4 linked regions of the Homo sapiens genome follow. The protein of the gene in region 2 purifies or fractionates together with the protein of the main gene of each other region. This does not show direct contact. Each region holds a gene or a part of one and is shown on either strand. Other genes may lie near its edges.

The links. Proteins that work in one complex are often made in the same cells at the same time.
Region 1: the proteins of KMT2C (region 2) and ASCL2 purify together in Homo sapiens (affinity purification with western blotting, with the first as the bait; one study listed by BioGRID). This does not show direct contact.
Region 3: the proteins of KMT2C (region 2) and GRHL1 purify together in Homo sapiens (co-immunoprecipitation; one large-scale study listed by IntAct). This does not show direct contact.
Region 4: the proteins of KMT2C (region 2) and SETD1B purify together in Homo sapiens (affinity purification with mass spectrometry, with the first as the bait; one large-scale study listed by BioGRID). This does not show direct contact.

The regions. Positions count from the first base shown.
Region 1 is NC_000011.10:2,267,998-2,271,993, reverse strand, and holds ASCL2 (achaete-scute homolog 2), read left to right. Parts: upstream 1-1,405; 5' UTR 1,406-1,661; coding exon 1,662-2,243; 3' UTR 2,244-2,261; intron 2,262-2,867; 3' UTR 2,868-3,496; downstream 3,497-3,996. UniProt on the Homo sapiens protein: Transcription factor. Binds to E-box motifs 5'-CANNTG-3' in the regulatory elements of target genes, probably as a heterodimer with another basic helix-loop-helix (bHLH) protein such as the transcription factor TCF3.
Region 2 is NC_000007.14:152,183,832-152,189,055, forward strand, and holds part of KMT2C (histone-lysine N-methyltransferase 2C), read right to left. Parts: intron 4,017-5,224; coding exon 3,884-4,016; intron 3,646-3,883; coding exon 3,431-3,645; intron 1,801-3,430; coding exon 1,727-1,800; intron 1-1,726. UniProt on the Homo sapiens protein: Histone methyltransferase that catalyzes methyl group transfer from S-adenosyl-L-methionine to the epsilon-amino group of 'Lys-4' of histone H3 (H3K4).
Region 3 is NC_000002.12:9,958,193-9,961,692, reverse strand, and holds part of GRHL1 (grainyhead-like protein 1 homolog), read right to left. Parts: intron 2,908-3,500; coding exon 2,837-2,907; intron 2,820-2,836; exon of another isoform or gene 2,729-2,819; intron 648-2,728; coding exon 257-647; intron 1-256. UniProt on the Homo sapiens protein: Transcription factor involved in epithelial development. Binds directly to the consensus DNA sequence 5'-AACCGGTT-3'.
Region 4 is NC_000012.12:121,810,509-121,814,008, reverse strand, and holds part of SETD1B (histone-lysine N-methyltransferase SETD1B), read right to left. Parts: coding exon 3,174-3,500; intron 1-3,173. UniProt on the Homo sapiens protein: Histone methyltransferase that catalyzes methyl group transfer from S-adenosyl-L-methionine to the epsilon-amino group of 'Lys-4' of histone H3 (H3K4) via a non-processive mechanism.

The DNA of each region.
Region 1 (3,996 bases), on a different chromosome or scaffold from region 2:
CTGGTCACCTTCGGGAAAAACCGGCTTGGCAAAGGCTCCCCCGAGGGCACGCGTTTCCCGGACAGTGAGGCAGGACCTAAACTCTTCCGTTAACACTACATTTTTCGCATTTCTGCAGTGTTTGCACTCTCAGGCCCCACCATTTCCCCGCATCTCTTAGGGAGAAGTTCTCGACGTCCCACCTCCCCTGGAAGGGTGCTGCTCCCAGAGACCTTCAGGCCAATGGCCCAATCTCAGTGCCCTCAGGGGAGAGGGGGGTGCAGAAAAACAGCCTGGGTCACAAAAGAGGTGCGAGGGCTGTGAGATCCCGGAGGCACCGACGGGAAGCGAGACGGAGAACAGGAGGGCAGGACGGGCTGGAGGTGGGGGATACTGCAGATGGAGGGAGCCACGGTGGGGGAGGGCGTGGACCTGACCGTCCTGGCACAAGGCGGTCGGGTGCAGACCTCCAGGCCCTCCGGGTTAAGGTGCCGCCCAGAGCCCTCAGGCCGGGGGCGCACGGAAACCACAGGCAGGGTGCGCGTGGAGGGACGGGGAAAGCGGGGCGGGTTGGGGAAGGCGCCCCGGGAACCTGAACCTCCCACCCCGCCTCAGTCTCGACCACTCCTTAAGCCCCACCCCGCCCCAGGTAAGGCGCAGTCCACCCCCATTCCCAGTAGATTAACGCACAGGTGGGGGCGCGCTCGGGACATAGCTGCGCTAGGGGACAGCGCGCCCAGCCCAGTCGCGGGGGCGAGGAGCAGGGCGGGGCCCAGCAGGAACCCAGCTTTGTTAGCGATGCTCCCCGTGAGCCACGCGCCACGCGTACGCGCTTCCTCAATGGGGCCGGGCGTGGAGCCGCGCCCTGCGCGATTGGCCAAACGGGTGGCCCACGATTGGCTGAGACCCTGGCCCCCGCCTCCTCGGCCCCAGGAGGGTGGGGCGTGGGTGTGGGCTGCGCGGCGCGTGCTGCCCCCGGGGATCTTGCGCGCCTCCCGAACAGCCGTGTTGTCGCCAGGGCCGCGCCTTCCCTCCCACAGCGCGCGCTGCGCGTGCGAAGGTCTGGCGGCTCTTGGGACTGGCGGGGCTGCGCGCGGGGTTAGGGTGGGGGTACGGGAAGGCTCAACCCAGGACCTGCGTACCTTGCTTTGGGGGCGCACTAAGCACCTGCCGGGAGCAGGGGGCGCACCGGGAACTCGCAGATTTCGCCAGTTGGGCGCACTGGGGATCTGTGGACTGCGTCCGGGGGATGGGCTAGGGGGACATGCGCACGCTTTGGGCCTTACAGAATGTGATCGCGCGAGGGGGAGGGCGAAGCGTGGCGGGAGGGCGAGGCGAAGGAAGGAGGGCGTGAGAAAGGCGACGGCGGCGGCGCGGAGGAGGGTTATCTATACATTTAAAAACCAGCCGCCTGCGCCGCGCCTGCGGAGACCTGGGAGAGTCCGGCCGCACGCGCGGGACACGAGCGTCCCACGCTCCCTGGCGCGTACGGCCTGCCACCACTAGGCCTCCTATCCCCGGGCTCCAGACGACCTAGGACGCGTGCCCTGGGGAGTTGCCTGGCGGCGCCGTGCCAGAAGCCCCCTTGGGGCGCCACAGTTTTCCCCGTCGCCTCCGGTTCCTCTGCCTGCACCTTCCTGCGGCGCGCCGGGACCTGGAGCGGGCGGGTGGATGCAGGCGCGATGGACGGCGGCACACTGCCCAGGTCCGCGCCCCCTGCGCCCCCCGTCCCTGTCGGCTGCGCTGCCCGGCGGAGACCCGCGTCCCCGGAACTGTTGCGCTGCAGCCGGCGGCGGCGACCGGCCACCGCAGAGACCGGAGGCGGCGCAGCGGCCGTAGCGCGGCGCAATGAGCGCGAGCGCAACCGCGTGAAGCTGGTGAACTTGGGCTTCCAGGCGCTGCGGCAGCACGTGCCGCACGGCGGCGCCAGCAAGAAGCTGAGCAAGGTGGAGACGCTGCGCTCAGCCGTGGAGTACATCCGCGCGCTGCAGCGCCTGCTGGCCGAGCACGACGCCGTGCGCAACGCGCTGGCGGGAGGGCTGAGGCCGCAGGCCGTGCGGCCGTCTGCGCCCCGCGGGCCGCCAGGGACCACCCCGGTCGCCGCCTCGCCCTCCCGCGCTTCTTCGTCCCCGGGCCGCGGGGGCAGCTCGGAGCCCGGCTCCCCGCGTTCCGCCTACTCGTCGGACGACAGCGGCTGCGAAGGCGCGCTGAGTCCTGCGGAGCGCGAGCTACTCGACTTCTCCAGCTGGTTAGGGGGCTACTGAGCGCCCTCGACCTATGAGGTAACAGCCGGGAGGCAGGGAGGAGGGAGGGCCGGGGGCCGGGGTGGAGGGACGGGGTGGGCAGGCCCGGCGGGTCGCGCCCCCAGGAGCCCGCGGAGCCGAGCGCCAGGCCCGAGCGATGGCTTCGATTTCGCTCACTCTTCATTTCCCCCAAAGTTTTTCAAGCCCGTGCAAGACCGGCGTTTGTTTGTCCGGGATTGCAAAACTTCCCCTCGCGGCTCAGCCGCCGACGAGGGAGGGGTAGACGAGGGGAGGGGAGCGGCCGTCGGGCCGTTGAGGTCTCTAGTGCTGGCGGATCCTGGGGCAGATTGGGGTGCTGGAGGCGGGGTGACTTTGCATTGCAAATCGCGCTCCCGGGCCGGGGCGGCAGAAATGAGTCGGCGGGCGCGGAGCCCTGACTCACCGCGGCTCCGAGCGCCCGCCCCGCCCCCGCCGTGTCTCAGACCGAGTCGCGGCACCCACGGACTCAAGACTCCAAAACCAACCGAGCAAACGAAACTGCCGACTTCGCTTGGGGGAGGTGCGGGCAGGGCCGGCCCGGGCGGGGTCTGCCCCGGGCCCGCGCCCGCGTTGACGCGCGTTTGGTTCCCCACCTTCCCCCCGCAGCCTCAGCCCCGGAAGCCGAGCGAGCGGCCGGCGCGCTCATCGCCGGGGAGCCCGCCAGGTGGACCGGCCCGCGCTCCGCCCCCAGCGAGCCGGGGACCCACCCACCACCCCCCGCACCGCCGACGCCGCCTCGTTCGTCCGGCCCAGCCTGACCAATGCCGCGGTGGAAACGGGCTTGGAGCTGGCCCCATAAGGGCTGGCGGCTTCCTCCGACGCCGCCCCTCCCCACAGCTTCTCGACTGCAGTGGGGCGGGGGGCACCAACACTTGGAGATTTTTCCGGAGGGGAGAGGATTTTCTAAGGGCACAGAGAATCCATTTTCTACACATTAACTTGAGCTGCTGGAGGGACACTGCTGGCAAACGGAGACCTATTTTTGTACAAAGAACCCTTGACCTGGGGCGTAATAAAGATGACCTGGACCCCTGCCCCCACTATCTGGAGTTTTCCATGCTGGCCAAGATCTGGACACGAGCAGTCCCTGAGGGGCGGGGTCCCTGGCGTGAGGCCCCCGTGACAGCCCACCCTGGGGTGGGTTTGTGGGCACTGCTGCTCTGCTAGGGAGAAGCCTGTGTGGGGCACACCTCTTCAAGGGAGCGTGAACTTTATAAATAAATCAGTTCTGTTTACCAGTGGCTCCTATCACCTACACTTCCCAGGTGACGGCCAGACTTCCGTGGTCACTACTCCTCAAACCCTGCTGCCTCCTCCGTAGGGTGGGTCTGGGTGAGATCTGGAGTGCAGCCAGGCCGTTGATAGCGGAGCCATTGGGACACCTTGTGAGGCTGGGGGCATCCTCCAGGAGGTGGTGGGCTGGTGGGTTGTCCAGACAGGGCTACTCGCTGGCTTGGAAGCTGCAGGCTGGAGGCTGCTGACCCATCCCGAGGGCTGGGGTAAGTGCTGGGTGTGGGGCTAGGCTGAGGTGGTCTGACCAGAGAGCACCGGCTGTGGGGCTGAGGGCATGGGCTCCTGCGCAGGCCACCACGCTCAGATCTCCACTAACGTGGCAGCTGGGCAGCCCAGGGCAAGTGGGTTAACTTGCAAATGGGTTTGACCAGACCCACCTCAACGGCCTCTGGGAGGAGTTAGTGAGAGGTGCCTGGAGGCTGCCCTCTCGCTAGCTTTGGGT
Region 2 (5,224 bases):
GTTGTGGTGAGCCAAGATTGCGCCATTGCACTCCAGCCTGGGCAACAAGAGCAAAACTCTGTCTCAAAAAAAAGAAAAAGAAAAAGAAAAATCAGCCAGGCATGGTGGCACATGCCTGTAATCCCAGCTACTTGGGAGGCTGGGGCAGGAGAATCGCTTGAATCTGGAAGGCAGAGGTTGCAGTGAGCCGAGATCGCACCATTGCACTCCAGCCTGGGCAACAACTGTGAAGCTCCATCTCAAAAAAAAAAAAAAAAAAATTTAGAAAAAAGGAAAAATATCCAATCAGTCTTAAAAAAAAAAAAATCTGGATATTTGAAACGTATCATTAAAGAAATCACTTAAAAATTTAAAAATTCTGTCATTACCTAATTCAAGTCAAAATAAAACACAGCATATTAACACATCTATATATATATATGTGATAGAGCATATACACACATATATGCTCTATCCAAAATAATCACTGTAACTGAAAATATGTGCACTGGGGAACAAGCTGGAAAATAACTATATATATTTTCCAACAATAATACAGATTTAATATGCTTTAAAACGAAAGCAAGGATTTGGTTCCAGCTGACAATCTTAATTTGGCTCTTTGGGAGAAAATAATTTACCATATGAACTGCGAATCTTATAAAATTACCTAATAGTTCATGGCAAAGATCATGTGTCAAAAACTCTTTAAACATGTCTAAATATTTCTCTTTCAAGATGCACAAAGATTCTCTATGAAACCTAACAAGAAAAGAGGTGACTGTGGAAGACACTGAGGCATGCCAATCCAGTCTCCAAATTTAGTACAGTTGTCCCTCTGTATCCATGGGGTATTGGTTCCAGGATTCCCTGCAGATACCAAAATCCACAGATGCTCAAGTCCCTTATAGAAAATGTCACAGTATTTGCATATAACCTACACATATCCTCCTGTATACTTTCTCCCTTTTTATTTTTTGACCTAGCAGGGTGGTCTTGCTCTGTCACCTAGGCTGGAATGCAGTCGTACAATTCTGGCTCACTGAAGCCTCAACCTCTCAAGTCTCTCAAGTAGCTGAGACTACAGGCATGCGCCATCATACCCAGCTAATTTTTTCATTTTTTATAGAGATGAGGTTTTGGCTATGTTGCCCAGGCTGGTCTTGAACTCCTGGGCTCAAAGCCATCTGCCCACCTTGGCCTCTCAAACTGCTGGGATTACAGGTGTGGGTCACTGTGCCTGGCCCCTCCTGTATACTTTAAGTCATCTTTAGATTACTTGTAATACTTAACACAATATAAATGCTATGTAAATCGTTGTTACATTGTTTTAAAAACAATGACAAGGGAAAGAGTCTGTACAAGTTCAGTATAGATGTTTTTCCAAAATATTTTTGATCCATGGTTGGTTGAATCCACAGATATAGAACTCATGGATACAGACGGCCAACTGTACCTCTGCTGAAGAGATAAAACAATTTTAAAGTGAAATGAATTACTCCTTCCCCCCTAAAACAGCTGATTTTCAATCTTCAACGTTTTGGTTCTATTAACTTGCTTATAAAAATGTCACACTCTCTATTAAGACATAAGGAGTTAGAAAATCACTTTAAAAATAAAGTTGCTTGTTGTACAGGTACTAACAAGCATTTTCTGAAATGGAAATTTGTTTTTTATTAACCTAATACAAATAAGGTTCAAGCACTGTATTTAAATATTTAAAAGATAGAGGAGTTTCTTAAAATACCACATATGGTGCTCTTTCTTGTGAGCTTGCTTTTCTCCACAATTTGGCAATTTGCTTCACTCTAGTAGTCCAATCTGCAACAAAAGAACAGAGTATAACACTTTCTCAGAGCCATGCTAATGATGTGTTGTAATAAAGAATGTTGATGAACTGCTGACAGTTAATCTTATTCAGGCCGTATTCTCATGAGGTCATAGACCTATATTAAGTTTTTTACAAAGAACAAAGATCGTGGCACACTGTAGGCCAAACAAACGTTTTCTAAATGAAGTGCTGCCTTATTAACAACGTAGCTTGTAAAGTTGGGAAGTTTTTAGATTCAAGGGACAAAGTAGCAAAAATGCAAGCCAGACATAATAAATTCCCTCTGGTGGTAAGACACCACCAGAACCAAAGTACAAGTTTGTAAAACATCTGTGCTAAACAGAAATCTATCAATTTGACCTACCAGAAGTAAACAAAGTCATAAATAAGCATCTCACTAGCATTTGTGGACAACAAACACATGGAAAAGTAATGAGTTCAAACCATTTATATGAAACTCAGTGTCATGACGGTATACAAAATGAAGAAGCCTGGGTAAGATCAACAGTTAATGATAAATACAGAAATTATTTATTCCACATTACAAAAAGAAAGCAAGCTTCCAAAAAGCCAATGAAAATGAAAAATCAGTTCACAGACCAACAGCTTTAACACAGTATTTCATGAGGTTCTTGAATCACAAAGTAAAATTATTAAAGAAAATTACTTTTAAAAAAGTTACAGCTCTGCTGTAAGGACAATTTGTGCTGACACAAAATGACAACATACCCATGTACGTTCATAAACAGCAAATGTAAGCATGGAAAGAAAGTGGCTGAAGAATGGGATACTGCCTTCACAGGTCTCCCTGCATCAAACCACTGATTTCTATTGTTAGATAAAAAGCATTTCATTTATTACAATACATAATGAATAAAGTCCCATGAAGACGCCAATCCAAAAAGGTACCTAAATACAGGGGTCATCCAAATGAAAAGTCACTTCCAGGTACCCCTCTAGTAATTTAAGAGTTTGTGTATTGATAGATAGCTGGGAAACTATTGCAAAACTGAGTTTGAATAACTTTTTCAATCCTAGTTTGTCTGATACCATGAACTCAAAATAATAAAACCGCATTGCTTGCATATATTCAATAATTGACATTTCATTAATCCAAATTTCTCATTCACTGGTTAATCAGAATTTTCACAAACTGTACTATTATCATCTGTTTTTTTCAAGAGGCAGTGGTAATAGCTGGGCAGTCAGGGAAAGTGAGAGGGGAAGAAGGGAAGACAATATTGAATTCGTTTCATAAAAACACTATTTAGGATTCACTGATTTAGCCTAGCAGTATTTTTGATTAAATGATAGTTTGGGTTCTAGAAATTTTTTAAAGAATCACATAACACGGATTTCTGCATATTAATAAGTACTGCTAGGAGCTGAAAAACGGACCATTTCACTAATTGAAACTAATTTTTGGGAAATATGAGGATGGATGCAGGGTCTAGGACAAAGTAAAATGCAAGATGTTTCTAGACATCTAGGGAATCTTCATGTTGTGGGTCATCATAGACAAAAATTAGTTAAGCTACCTTTCTATTGCAGTTAAAAAAAAAAAAGGTATTGCACATGTGAAAATGTTGGTAAAACAGAAATAATATATTCATGGCTTACCAGGGAATTCTTCCTTTAAGTTGGGGAAATTAATATTGGTGTAGAGAACTGGGGCAACAGTTGCCATTTCACCCAGAGCCTCCTCTTTCTCCCACTTAAGCGTGCTTCTCTGGGCATTCGACATTGTGTCATTTTCTCCTTCCACAGTGGGAGCTGATGATGTCCAAGAGTTGTTAGGATCACTTGCCATTGGATTAAAGGCTGAATTTTTATCCCTGGGAAAAAATAAATATCTTTACTTTATGAACATAAAATAACTTCTTAATATATGTTCAAGTATAGCTTTCATTAAAACCTATTACAAAACAGTTAAAAGTAACATATTTATAGCAAAAGCCACAATAAACGCAACATACAATAATATCATACACAATCATTTAAGCAGACTAATTTATATATAAATCAAACAGAAATTAGTGCAATTTAAGTTTCCATAGAAAATAAGGCTTGTACCTGGCATCAGGATAAGAGGATTGTGCAATTGCAGAGAAAGTTCCCAGTCCGCTTCCAGGTGGCAAAGAATTATGTGGGAGATGAGGACTGGATCCAATAAGGCCATTCATGAGAGGCATCCGTGAAAAAGCATCTTCAGAGAAAAAAATAATTCCGTTGGCATGATATTCACAAGTAACAAGGAGTTGAAGTAAAGCTGGCCCTTGAACAACATGGTTTTTAACTGCATGGGTCCACATAAACACACATTTTTTTCAACTGAATGTGGATAGAAAACACAGGGAAACCCATGCATAGAGAGGACCAACTTTTCTTGTATGCCAAGCTCCATAGGGCCAACATTTGACTTCTGTATTCTCAGATTTTGGTTATACCTGGGGGTCCTGGAACCAAAGCCCCAAGTACAGAAGAGATGCTTATACTTCTAAATCAAAACCTTTAATGCAATTTAAAAGTAGGATTTTTTTCAGTATTTTATAATACTTAAAGAGTGACTTTTGGCTATAAGATTTTGAAATATGATCTCTACAGCTGTGATTATTTCATTATTGTGTACTAGAAATAGCAAGTGTTCTGGAGTCCAAAAGCCCAGGGTGTGAACCTCAATTTTACCTGTTAGAAGCAGAATCAATTTCTATTTCTGTAAACCGTAGGTATTCTGTTATTTGGGTTAATTGAGATAATGTATGTACAGCTCTAAACATAGTTCCTGGTATGCAGTAACTATTCGACACAATTAACTCCTAAAAAACACTAATGAATCACAGCAAATGCTAGTAAGTTTTATCAAATATTCTTTCTCTTCATTAAAAATTTACAAACAGATGTTTCTTATATTTTATTCCTGTTCCTCTTAATACCAAAAAAAAAAAAAAATCTATGATTCTTTCCTTTTTTTTTTTTTTTTTTTGTTTTTGAGATGGAGTCTCACTCTGTCGCCCAGGCTGGAGTGCAGTGGCAAGATCTCAGCTCACTGCCACCTCTGCCTCCCAGGTTCAAGCAATTCTGCCTCAGCCTCCTGAGTAGTTGGAATCACAGGCACTTGCCACCATGCCCAGCTAATTTTTGTATTTTTAGTGGAGGTGGGGTTTCACCATTTTGGCCAAGCTGATCTCAAACTCCTGCCTCAAGTGATCCACCCACCTCAGCCTCCCAAAGTGCTGGGATTACAGGTGTGAGCCACTGTGTCCACCCCACCTATGATTCTTAAATTGATACTTTCTCTAAATTAGTTTTGAGTAAGCAATATATCTATCACTAAAAATCAGATGATTATTCCTAAAAATACATACACTCTGGTTTTGGCCTAATTTTTATAACTTACAGTTCAGCCCCCAAACA
Region 3 (3,500 bases), on a different chromosome or scaffold from region 2:
CAAATCCCTTAGCTGAAATCATAATTGTTAACTCAGCTGCTGGTAAGATTAGCCTTGCATCCTTGATAATAACTTCTGGTTGTATAGGTTTAGTTTACAAATTATACCCATGGGCCTTTTCTCTTAAAAAAAAAATCTTTTATTCCTAATCCATTCATTTCAGGCTGAGTTTCATGCTTACATAACAAGGAAAAGGTGGAACCCAATACTTATACAAACACGCAGGCGTCTTAGGAAGATGTTTTTGTTTCCTTACCTCCTGAACGCCTTCCTTGAAGGTCTCTGAGAAGGTCGAGTCTGGAGTTCGCCTTTGAGCATTTGGGGCTTGAGCACCAGAGCTGAACTGGTCAGTATTGAGATTCCGATCGAAAACCACCACCCGCTCAGTGGGCTCAGGATGATACACTGCTGGGGGGATTCCCACAGCGAAGCCATGTGGCTGGGTTTCTGTCTTGATGGAGTGGGTAGGCATCGTTGCTATGGAGACAGTGACTGTCGTATCTGGAGCTGTCAGATGGCCTCTCTTATCAATGCCCAGCTGGTTGCCATGGGGAAGGACAATGTTAAATGGCACATTTTTCAGTACTTGCACTCTGTTTTCTCCAGCAGAGATGAGGGGCTGCTCTGTCACAATTGGTATGCTGTTTCTTTAAGAAAAGAAAACTGCTTTCAAACGCGATGCTGATGTAGTTCTTTGACAATTTTTATTTTCCTAATGGCATTGGGCTGTTGGGTCCTGTGCAATAACACTTGACAGAATAAACAGAAAACATCAAAACTACCCATTACTAGATAAAGGGAAAAAGGCTTTCTGGTTATCGGTCAAATAAAATCCAAACCTATTAAGTAAAATTTCATTCGAAATACTAAGGGCTCAGAGCTCTCCTCTAACAAGCTTTACTTTCCATAATCCTAAAAACAATTACTGTGTTTTACTAGAAACCTGAAGCTATGCGATCTGATCAACTGGGGTTACAGCATAGACGCCAGGGTCAAATTGCCTGGGTTCAAGTTCTGTGTCACCTGAGCAAGTTACTTCATCTCTTAGTAACTGAATCCTCATCTGCAAAATGGGGACAATAATGGCATCCATTCTCATCAGGTTGAGATGAGATGATACACTAAAAGGTGTATAATAATGCCTGACACACAGTCTTCAAGAAGTATGAGCTATTATTACTTGGTCACCACTTTTCCTACCACCTATGCCATTTGGCTTTCTCCTTTTTTTTTTTTTAATTTTTTATTTTTTTGAGACAGAGTCTTGCCCTTATGGCCCAGGCTGGTGTGCAATGGCGTGATCTAGGCTCACTGCAACCTCCGCCTCCCGGGTTCAAGCGATTCTCCCACCTCAGCCTCCCGAGTAGCTGGGATTACAGGCGCACGCCACCACACTTGGCTAATTTTTGTATTTTTAGTAGAGACTGGGTTTTACCATGTTGGCCAGGCTGGTCTCGAACTCCTGACCTCAGGTGATCCACCTGCCTCAGCCTCCCAAAGCGCTGCGATTACAGGCATGAGCCACTGTGCCGGGCCTGGCTTTCTCTTTCACCCAAGAAAACCTATTGTTACATTGCATCAGTAGACACATCTGCTTTTTATAAAATTAAATTTTGGTTTGATAAATAATTTGAGCAATACAAGATGATTTCCAGTGGGTAAAATGAATGAATTTTCAAAGCCCCCAGAAATCATATAGGCTGAAGCTTCAAGAAACAGGCAAATTGAGAATTCTGTACATTTCAAGATCAATAAAACTGTTTGAACCCTGAACCATAAATTCACTCCCAGGAATTTATCCTAAAACGGAAAAAGTCTAGAAAGTTGTTCCTTAAGACTTCTTAATAGTGAAAACTAGATATAGCAGCAATTGTAAGGATATTTACAGTTTGCTTCAGAATGTTCCAGCAAAAATAAATAAAATAAAAACATGAATTAATCTCAAAGTTGAAGAAGAGGGAAGAACAAATCAAACAAGAGGAATTGTGTTGATAACTGTTGAGGCTGGTCATGGATACATGTGGGCTTATACTGTTTTTCTATTTTTATTATGTTTGAAAATGCCCATAATGAAAAGTAAAAGATAAAAGCCACAAGTCCTCTTCCAAAGGATAATTATGAAGATTAAAATACAGAGAAAATGTTTATGAAACAAACTAAGTAGAAGAAAGTACACTACCAAATCCTATCTGTGAACACAACTACGCTACATAAAATTTGCATACACATCAAAACAATGAATAAAGCAATCATCACGATAATGGGATACTGGGTGATGATCATTCTTCCTTTAAATATGTTTCATTCCTTGATTGATAATAAAACACAAGACAATTTAAAAGGTGTCTTTTTAAAGTTTTTCATGGCTAGCCAAACGTTAATTAAATTTTCTGAAAGTTTTAATCTAAAATATTTCACAAATAATTTCAACAGGAATTTGAATACAATTTAACTTGCTTTATTCAATTTTACTCAGGCAGTTGTTCAAGAGTCACTGGTGCTTAATTTTTTTAATAGACCACTGCCACACATCCTTCTAAAGAAAACCTCAAAAACAAATAAGCAAATACTGAAGTTATTACTAAAACTATCCCTTTGGAGGAGGAGAATGTTAGTGCTTTCATCCTAGAAAAGGCAACTACTACGCCCAAAGAAAAAAGGAAATTTCAGAGCAACAGAGGCAAATCAGTGATGAAATCTGAATTTAGATAGTAAGAGTCCAACTTACCTATCTCTTTCACTAGTGGTTGTTCATTTAAACAAACTCCCATTTTGCTGTTACAGAAACGTGGCATTTCCCCCTGCACTCTTTATGCTGTTAGGCACTGAATGTTACCTTTTGCTGTGATCTGGCTCAGGGTGCTCCACCTCTGGCTTTGCTGTTGATGACCTTCTCTCTCTTGGAACCTGATATTAGCACACATGAAAAGAATTTAGCTCTTATCCAGTGAAGTGCAGTTTACCCAAAGATACAGCCTTTTATTTTTCAGTAAATTCAATCATTCATTTATCTACTGGTTGCCTAGCAAACACCAGGCTATGGGGACACACAAATTATAATATCTGCCCTCAACGAGCTTAAAATCTAGTCACCCATCTGGTTGATATGTAAAAAGCAACTGTTATTGAGTTGCCAAATAAACTCAGGGCATGATAAATTTATTTTGTCATGGAGTTTGGGTCTCATCTCTTAAAAAAAAAATACCTCCGCTGGCCACAGCTGGTGGCTCATGTCTGTAATCCCAGCCACTTTGGGAGGCCAAGGTGGGAGGATTGTTTGAGCCCAGGAGTTCAAGACCAGCCTGGGCAACACAGTGAAACTCATTTCTACAAAAAAAATTTTAAAATTAGCCAGGCGTGGTAGCATGTGCCTGTAGTCTCAGCTACACAAGAGAGACTGCGGTGAGAAGATCGCTTCAGCCCGGAGGCAGAGGTTACAGTGAGCAGAGATTGCGCCACTGCACTCTGGCCTGGGCGATAGAGCAAGACCCTTCCTGACT
Region 4 (3,500 bases), on a different chromosome or scaffold from region 2:
CTGTGTGACCCAGTGCAAGCCATTCAGCCTCTCCAAGCCTCAGCGTCTTCATTTGCAAAATGGGCATCATAGTCCCTGCCTCATGGAGTTACCACTAGAATTCATTCATTCATTCCAATTCAACAAACATTTGCTCAGTACCTGTGTGCCAGGCACTGGTCTAGGTGCTGGGGACACAAAGTTGAAGAGGCAGGCAAACATCTTACTCTTGTGGAGCGGAGCCAGCAGGAAAAGGCAAAAGGATGATGAGGGTGAATACGGGAAACGTGAGGGAGAGAAAGAAGGCAGGGAGACGGGTGGGGCACAGAGGATGAAACTGTTGCAATTTCAGAGATTCTGTTGCAACTTGTGTGCAGAAATAGTTGCCACTTCCATAGTGTCTCTTATGTGCCAGGGCCTTTCTAAACGCTCCACATTTATTAACTCAGCTAATCCTCAGAACAGCCCTATTTTCAACTCCATTTTTGCCCCACGAGGAAACTGGGGCACAGAGAATTTAAGTAACCTGCCCAAGGCCACACAGCCAAGAAGAGATGGAGCCGGGATTTGAACCAGGAAGTGGTTCTGCAGCCTGTGCTCTCAGTCACCCTGCTGTCCTCACTCTGCGGCAGACGGCCAGGCAGGAAAGGTGACATTGGAGCGGGGGTTTAGCAGCACTAAGGCCCATAAACAGGAAGTGTGTTGTTATTTATTTTTCCTTGATTACTCTTTTCACCTAGTCTCGTGACTGCACAATCAGTGTGGGCCCGCGTGGGGCTAAGCGCTGCAGACGGCTGCCTCATTTTTTATCCGAAAGATAACCTCACAGGGCGGGGGGCTCTGCTCCGACCCATTTGACAGTTAATAAACACACTCAGAGCCTCAGCCGTGGCCCCGCGGCACAGCCAGTCAGAAGAAGGTCTGGAGCCCAGGACCTGCCCAGTGCGGGGCTGCAGCTGGGATCCAGGGCGGTGGTGAGGGGTAAATGTGGGAGGTGTCAAGGATGGGCGTGGGGCTTTAGGGAGCCGAGTGGACAGGTCTGGACTTGGGGTGGGGGGACCTTTGAAGGCTGAGGGGGAGTGGGGGTGGAGGTGGAGTCTGTGCAAGTTGCAAGATCAGAGGTCAGACTACAGGTGAGGAAGGCCTCAGAGGAAAACTGCAGGTAGCGGGGTAGGAGGACGGAGACTACCCAAACTAAGGCAGCGGCAGGAAGCTCTGGACTTTACCAGGTCCCCTCTGTGCACACATACACACACACACACGCACGCACGCACACACTCTCCTTCTCAGGATCCCCATGCACATCAAGAAGAGACAGACGGGCTCGGGTGGATCCTCAGAGAGCACTCCCCAGATCAGTCCTGGACAGAGCCGAGCACAGCGCGCCGCGGCACACAGAGGGTTAACCCGGGCCGCCGCCGCCAGCCAATCACAGGGAGGCAGATCCTGCGCTCCAGCCCCGGCCGGCCCTGCCCCTCCCTCTGCCCAGCAGTCTCGGGGTGAGAAGCGGCAGGAATTTGCTGAGAACTGGGAGTCCAGCAGGCCTGGCGGTGCCGGGAGCATCCTGTGCGGCACCTCACTTAAGCTGAGGTCCTGTGCTGCAGGGACTCTCACAGGCCCATTTGGCAGATGACGAAACTGAGACTCAGAAAGGCAAAAGTGCCTTTTCCAGGGTCACATAACCAGTAAGTGACTTGGCAGGACTCAAGAACTTGAGCCTGAACTTTTAACGACCAGCCACTGTTTAGAAGAAAAGCCCCCCCTGCACCCTCGGCTGGCCCCGCCTGCGCCGCTCCCCCACCTAGGATGGGACGGGGTCCAGCTCCCCGCACTGCGCGCGGCCGCAGAAAGCCCAGGCGCTATTCCCCGGCGCCAGCAGGGGGCGCCCGCGGGCCGGCCCGGAGCTTCCCGGCACTCGGCGACTCCCTGCGCTGGCGGCCGGGCAGTCCCAGACCCTCGCTCCCGGGGCCTCAGCCTGCCTTTCGCTCCAGCCACTGCGGGCCTCTCAGCCCTGGACCGTGGTCAGCATGGTAAACACTCCTCACCCCAGGCAGCCTAGACGGAGCGGAGGAGACGGGTGCCAGGGCCGGCGGCCCCCCTACAGCTGCACACCTGTCAACGCCCCCTGCCAAGGCCCCCTGCCTGGACCCCTTGATGCCAGAAACCACTTCCCCAGAACTGCTTGGAGGCCCCCTGGAGCCCCAGCCACCTGCAGCACCCTCCCAGGCAAGCCAAGTTCCTCTCGTTCCTCCCTGATGCAGCCAGACCCGCCTAATCAAAGGGCCCAAGAAGGGGGCAGTCCTCCTCCCCTCCGCCCACAGGGACGCAGAGCTCTGTCTAAGCCCCTGACTGCCCATGCCCACCGGGACTACGGCTCCAAGGCAGGTGCCTGGACCGAGAAGGAGGAGTGGAGCCAAGGAAGATGACCCAACACCCTCCCAGGGGAACCTGGCACGTGGCACCCTCACCCCCAACCCCTGGGCGGGACTTCCTGAGGCTGGAGGTTTAGGCAACGAGACCCCATGACCTGAGGAGAGGGTGGGGGATGGTCAACTTTGCCTTTTTCTGGCTACATGGCACCCCACCCCCACCCCAAGTTAGCTCTTAACTCCTTCATCCCTGGAGCCAGTGGGAGAAGAAGGGAAACCAGCACCCTCCCTGTCTGCCATGGTTTCCCCCTCTTCAGAGGGCACCAGGCTCTAGGAGACAATGCTCCGGGGCTTCACCCCACTTAGCCCAGCACAGTATTCTGGCCAATCTCTCTCCTCCCCTCTGCCTGAGGGCCAGGACTCTCCCTGATCATTCCCAAGCCACGCAACAGACAAGGGGACCAAGAGCCATCCCCACAGCTCATACTCTCTGAACTCTCAGCAAACGCCTACCAAAGCAGCTCAGGCCAGAATTTATCCCTAGGAAAAGCTGACTTCTTACCTAACAAGGAGAGCATCAGAACTAGGCCATGCTTTCCTTCTCTCCACGGCTGCTAGGGAGCTCATTGCCAAACCAATTGCTCAATCACAGCCCCTGGTGTTTTCTGCATCCCCTTTTTATTCTGTAAGTTCCACCTGTTATATTGGCTTTCCTAGCCCCATTGCTTCCGCATCTTAGCTAGTCATGCTAAATGCTTGAAGGGGGAAAGGGAGATACAAGATAGACAAAACCAGTCCCAGACAGATGGACAGACACGGTGGTACCTCATCCATCTTCTCTGAGGTCGGGGTTCTGTCTCCAACCAGGTCCAAGGCCACCTCAGCTGTCTGGCTCAGAAGCCCAGCAGGGTCCGGGGGGCCTGGCTCAGGTGGAGGCCGAGGCCCAAGGCCCAGGTCGAGCTCCTCGTCCTCGTCGGAGTCTGGGAGGGGTGTTGGGCTGATATCCTCCAGGCCGGTGCTGGAGGGGCGTGACGAGGGGGGCGTGGGGCCCCGGAAGCCTGGCTGGGAGTTGGTGCCAAAGGGGGCCAGTGGGGAGAGCTGGGAGGAGGAGGAGGAGATGGGGCTGCCCTCCATCTGCAGCTCGGTGTCCGA